Regions from separate parts of the Homo sapiens genome. Here region 2 is reported to be linked to region 1. Evidence: microRNA targets listed by miRTarBase, many of them from high-throughput screens and not tested one by one. Region 1 holds a microRNA gene; the other region holds the end of a gene's coding sequence.
What was found. Region 1 holds the annotated microRNA hsa-miR-4753-5p (CAAGGCCAAAGGAAGAGAACAG, at 1,694-1,715, opposite strand). A microRNA usually pairs through its seed, bases 2 to 8, with sites in the 3' UTR of a target mRNA and lowers its output. Matches are read on the target gene's strand: a 7mer-m8 pairs with bases 2 to 8, a 7mer-A1 pairs with bases 2 to 7 and ends in A, and an 8mer does both.

Region 1 (3,148 bases):
AATTAAAAAGGGCAGTGGGGAGCCTCATACAAGGAGCACTGGGTGAAGACTAAAAATTACTTAGATGCCTAGATCCCCACCTCACTTCAGGTTGGAAGGTGACTGCCCTTCTAGAGCTTTATTCTCTGAAGACAGTAGGAGAGGGCTCCTAGCCTGGGAGATGCTAACAACTGTTGAAGGCACAGGTACAGATGCGATGCTGAAATTAGGGGGATTCATGAACATATCTAACCACTAAGAATCCTCCACCCCACTCTCTGTTCTTCAACTAGATCCTAGAACACTGGAAACCATTCTCTTACCACCCTCCAGTCAAGAGATTGGAACTCTTTTCTCTGGAAGCCAACTAGTCTAAGAGAAAAAGACCTAAAGACTTCATATTATGAATTCCCTAGGACATGGCCAACCAGATCACCCGATAGTGAAACTCAAGGTCAACAAGTGCCAACCATATGCTTGCAATTTCCAAATCAGTTTAGTCTTTCCTTCATAATCATAAGACAGCCAGGAAAAAAAATTCTTAATAGGGAAGAGCTCAAAACAACAACACAGAAAAAAGCAAATTAGAGGTAACTGAAAAAACCAAAAATTATAAAATCCTTTGAAAGATCAAAATCCGAAAGGTAAGGTATTGCATCCATCTATAAGAACAGAGTGGTACAAAACACACAGAAAACAGAGCTCTTGAAAAATTAAACTAGTTTAATTTAAAAATATTCATTGAAAGGCTGGGCGCAGTGGCTCACGCCTATAATCCCAGCACTGTGGGAGGCTGAGGCAGGTGGATCACAAGGTCAGGAGTTCAAGACCAGCCTGGCCAAGATGGTGAAACCCCATCTCTACTAAAAATACAAAAAATTAGCTGGGTGCGGTGGCAGGCGCCTGTAATACCAGCTACTCGGGAGGCTGAGGCAGGAGAATCGCTTGAACTTGGAGGGCAGAGATTGCAGTGAGCCGAGATCATGCCACTGCACTCCAGCCTAGGCAACAGAGTGAGACTCAGTCTCAAAAAAAAAAAAAAAAAAAAAAAAATCATTGAAAACTTAAACATTACAGCAAAAAGTCAACAAAAGGATTAAAAGACAAAGCAGATAAAATTTCAAAGAAATAAAAAGACAAAAAAATTAATAAAAAGCAAGAAATTAAAAGGTGAGCATATTAGAGTATATTACAGAAGGTATAATATCAAATAATGGCTGGCCAAAGAAAGATAACAGCCAAGTGCAGTGTCATGCACCTATACCCCAGCTACCCAACTACTTGGGAGGCTGAGGCAGGAGGACTGCTTGAGCCCAGAAGTGTGAGAACAGCCTGGGCTGAACATAGTGAAACACAGTCTCAATTAAAGAAAAAAAAAAATTTGGCAGGGCTGGGACAGTAGCTCATGCCTGTAATCCTAGCACTTTGGGAGGCTGAGACAGGAAAATCGCTTGAGCTCAGAAGTTTGAGACCAGCCTGGGCAATATAGTAACACCTCATCTCAAAAATAGTAACAATGAACAAAAATTAAAAAGGAGAGAACAGTAAAATGCAGGAGAGGAAATCATCAAGAAAATCATTCAAAAAAACTGCCTAGAACAGAAAGACAGAAGTTGCTAGAATGAAAGAGTCTAGCAAGTAGGCATCACAGGGGATGAAAATATATCTACACAAGGCTAAAGAAAGAGAACAGCCAAGTGTACTGTGGATATATCTGTTCTCTTCCTTTGGCCTTGTGTAGATATATTTCAGAGTTAAATTTCTGGATACGAAAAACAAAGATTCAAGATTCCTAGCAGGGCATGGTGGCTCATGCCAGTAATCCCAGCACTTTGGGAGGCTGAGGTGAGTGGATCACTTGAGGTCAGCAGTTCGAGACCAGCCTGGCCAAAATGGCAAAACCCCATCTCTACTAAAAATAGAAAAACTAGCCAGGCGTGGTGGCAGGCCCCTGCAATCCCACCTACTCGGGAGGCTGAGGCAGGAGAAACACTTGAACCCAGGAGGCAGAGGCTGCAGTAAGCCAAAATTGTGCCACTGCACTCCAGCTTGGCCAACAGAGTGAGATTCCATCTCAAAAAAAGAAAAGAAAAAAAAAAGATTCCAGAGACAGAAAAGCAAAAAATAAAGAATAAAACAAGTCACATACAAAGAATCAGGAATTGGAAGAGCTCTGGACTTCACAAAAGCAATACTGGAAGCAAAAAAACAATTCAACACTGCCAATAAAATACTGAAGGAAAAACTTCCAATCCAGCCAAACTATGAATAGAATAAAGATATTTGCAAAAATAAATACAGATATTTAAATGCAGCCAATCTCTAAAAATTCCATCTCATGCACTTGTTCTTTAGAAGCTACTAGAGAATGTGCTCCACCAAAATGAAAGTATGGGGGTGGGGAGGAACCTGAGATGCCAAAAACAAAGAAATCCAAGAACTACATTAAAGGAGATCCCTAGAATGGGATCTCCCTAGGAAAATAGCTGTGCAACAGATATAGAGGGAAACCAGTCCAGACTACAGCAGTGTTATTTCCAAAGAAAGTCATACTGCAGGCTATTATCATTAAGCTACCTGCTACCGCCTCTCTGTAGTCTTTGAATGCCTGAGTGACCCAGACTGGATTTTAAAATCTGTATTTATCTTGTTTCAACTATGTGTCAATGAAATTCCAGCTCTCCCTTCCATGTCTTATGTGCCACTACCTAGATCAGCTAATGACATCATTTTATCCAGCAGAAACATTCTGACCTACTTGTGAAAAATAGGGGTAAATCACCATAAGCCTAGAATGAGAATATATATAGAGTAGTCTGCTACTACGACTGAGCACACTCCCACATAACATCCACTGCGAATGTGTCACATATTCTTTTTATTTTATTTTTTTTAAGATGGAGTTTCGCTGTTGCTACCCAGGCTAGAGTGCAATGGTGTGATCTTGACTCACTGCAACCTCTGCCTCCTGGGTTCAAGCGATTCTCCTGCCTCAGCCTCCCAAGTAGCTGGGATTACAGGCACCCACCACCACACCCGGCAAAGTTTTTGTATTTTTTTTTTTAGTAGAGACAGGGTTTCACCATGTTGGCCAGGCTGGTCTCAAACTCCTGACCTCAGGTAATCTGCCCGCCTTGGCCTCCAAAAGTGCTGGGATTACAGGAGTGAG
Region 2 (3,000 bases), not on the chromosome of region 1:
CCAGTGGCTCAAGGATGCTCAGGGGCTGCCTGGAGGGGGTGGGGGGGACAACAGTGGGACTGCTGAGAATGGCCGCCACTCGGACCTCGCTGCCTTGTACACCATTGTGGCTGTGTTCCCCAGCCCCCTGGCTGCCCAAAATGCCTCCCTTCGTCTCAACAACTCCGTGAGTCGCTTCAAACTTCGAATGGCCAAAAAGAACTATGACCTGAGGATCCTGGAGCGAGCCAGCTCCCAATAAATGGAGGAGGGGAAAGGGACTGTCACAGAAGGAGCAAGGGCAGGGTGGAGGGGGTTGAAGGATCCTGACAGACCATGGACAGAGGCAGGAAGTAAGGAAACTGATGTTAAACTGGAACCTAAGACAGTGATGAAGATGGAAACACAGATACCTACACTGGCATTGGACTCCTTCTTGCTCCCCTGCCATGGGTCCTCTCTTTTTCCCTGGTTGACCCCCCTTGCATCACTCTTCTTCCCATCCTCTTCTTTTTTTTTTTTTTTTTTTTTTTGAGACGGAGTTTCGCTCTTGTCACCCCAGCTGGAGTGCAGTAGCACGATCTTGGCTAACTGCAACCTCCAGCTCCTGGGTTCAGGTGATTCTCCTGCCTCAGCCTCCCAAGTAGCTGGCACTACAGACACGCGCCACCATGCCCGGCTAATTTTTGTATTTTTAGTAGAGACGGAGTTTCACCATGTTGGCCAGGCTGGCCTCAAACTCCTGACCTCAGGTGATCCACCTGCCTTGGCCTTCCAGAGTGCTGGGATTACAGGCGTGAGCCACTGTGCCTGGCTTCCATCCTCTTCTATCATTTTTTTAAATCTCTTCTCCTATCATAAAATTAATTTCTCATTTTTTGGTCAGGTAGAATTGGGAAAGTCCCACACTGTCCTCCTATTACCTTAACATCCCAAGCTTCCTTTCCTTTTTTGGTCTTTATGAATATATTTATATGGACAGAATTAAGATAAACAAAATTGATTGCCCCATTCTCTCACTTCCCCATCTTGTCTTCCTAGACCCCACAGAGTTAAAACTTGGGATTCCCCTGGCCCCCCCAGAACACTTGTATATTGTTTGTTTGAGGTTCGTGCCGCAGTAACAGACACAGTATTTAATTGCACATACAGATGTTTGCTGGGTATATTCACTGTAAATTTTATTTAATCTGTTTTTTTGTTTGTTTGGGGGTTATTTGGGGGGAGGTTGGTTTTGTTTTTAAATATAAAAAAAAAAATCTGTCACTGGACATCAGTCACTGTTTCTCTGTTGCCGCCCTGGTATGGGTAAAGGGTTGGAGGCCCTGGGTAGGTATAGCCCTACAGCTGTTGGAGGTGTTTGTCGTGGGTTGGGATGGCTTTCTCTAGCATACGCACACTATTTTAACACCATTCCCTCTGTCTCATCCTCTTCCCTGTACACGGTTCTGATAGATGGCTAGATCTCTAATGGGACCATGGCTTTGGGCTCTCCCGGTTCTGCCACTGTGGTTCATCGAGCATATCACTTCTCAACTCTGGATCTGTGTCCAGATCAGTAAAATAAGAGACTTGGACTTAGTAGGTGACCTCTAGGTTTCCTTCCAGACTATTAATTCTGTGGTACTGTGTACTCATTTAGGGCCCTTGTAGTTGAGTTTTGAGATAGGGTCTTGCTCTGTCACCCAGGCTGGAGTGCAGTGGCAGATCTCAGCTGACTGCAGCCGCCTCCCGTGTTCAAGCGATTCTTGTGCCTCAGTCTCCCGAGTAGCTGGGATTACAGGCGCGATCTAGCATGCCTGGCTAATCTTTTTTTTTTTTTTTTTTGCTATTTTTGGCAGAGACAGGGTTTTACCATGTTGCCCAGGCTGGTCTTGAACTCCTGGGCTCAAGTGATCTCCCGCCTTGGCCTCCTAAAGTGCTGGGATTACAGGCATGAGCCACCACTCCCAGCCCAGCTCGTCTTCTGAAAACCCTTTAGGGATGGAGAACTTGGGCCTTTCTTTTTTTTTTTTTTTTGAGATGGAGTCTCGCCCTGTTGCCCAGGCTGGAGTGCAGTGGCGCGATATCTCGGCTCACTGCAACCTCCACCTCCCGAGTTCAAGCAGTTCTCCTGCCTCAGCCTCCTGAGTAGCTGTGCCCCATCGTGCCCAGCTAATTTTTGTATTTTTAGTTGACATGGGGTTTCACCATGTTGGCCAGGCTGGTCTCGAACTCCTGACCTTGTGATCCACCCGCCTCGGCCTTCCAAAGTGCTGTGATTACAGGCGTGAGCCACCGTGCCTGGCTGCCTTTCTTTAATCCTAAAGCTGGAGGATTGGGTTTTACCTGTCAGGGACAGAAGCAGATTTTTATTACAATGAAAGCTACAGCAACTGAACTCGCAGTGCCAAGATGCTGTATTATCCAAACATGCTCAGCAGTCCCTGTCCTATGTGGCTGAAAAAAGACGAAGAGCAGAAGTCATCTTGCCTGCAAGATGGAGCTTTTCCTTTAGAGCATCTCAAAGCAAGCCCTGTTGTTCTGCAGCCTGTCAGAGCAGGGCCATTAAAGAACCTGCAGAGTCAGAACCATCCTGCACCCCCTTTTCAAACTCCCCCCTTAAATAGAAAAAAGTAGTGGGTGAGAATGACAAAGCACGTTGCCCTGGAAATCTCTTGGGTCCAAGTAGCTGTATCCCTAACGACGATCCTACAGGAGCTTGCCTGACCCAGTCTCCAACACAGTCCTTTATTTCTTACAGATACAAGGAATAGAGCAGCACTGCATTGCCACCTCTAAATTGCTCTCCCCTGAGATGGGAGTATCTCCTCTTTCATCCATGTCACAGCCCAAAGAGTAGAAGGGTGCACCCCTGTGAGATGAGAATGGCATCTGTCTCTTTGATCCATCAGTTATATACTGAGGCATCAAAGGTGGGAGATGGAATCAGGGAATCAAAAGGGTTTAGGAAGTGTGAGGGTTGGCCATCCTACCTTTAAGAGTTTGCAGTTCTCATGAGGAAGGGGACATTACTTAGAA

Region 2: miRTarBase lists R3HDM2 as a target of hsa-miR-4753-5p. Seed matches in the 3' UTR shown: 7mer-m8 at 747-753.

Annotation. Positions count from the first base shown.
Region 1 is chr1:235,188,393-235,191,540 of GRCh38, forward strand. MIR4753 (microRNA 4753) reads right to left here and starts at 1,724; the gene lies at 1,642-1,724. All of the region lies in intron 19 of ARID4B (AT-rich interaction domain 4B), which reads right to left.
Region 2 is chr12:57,252,014-57,255,013 of GRCh38, reverse strand. It overlaps R3HDM2 (R3H domain containing 2), which reads left to right. Exons shown (of 24, transcript NM_001394031.1): 24 at 1-1,250. The coding sequence ends at 241. Among named protein-coding and RNA genes, the nearest start is that of STAC3, 2.3 kb to the right of the region's middle.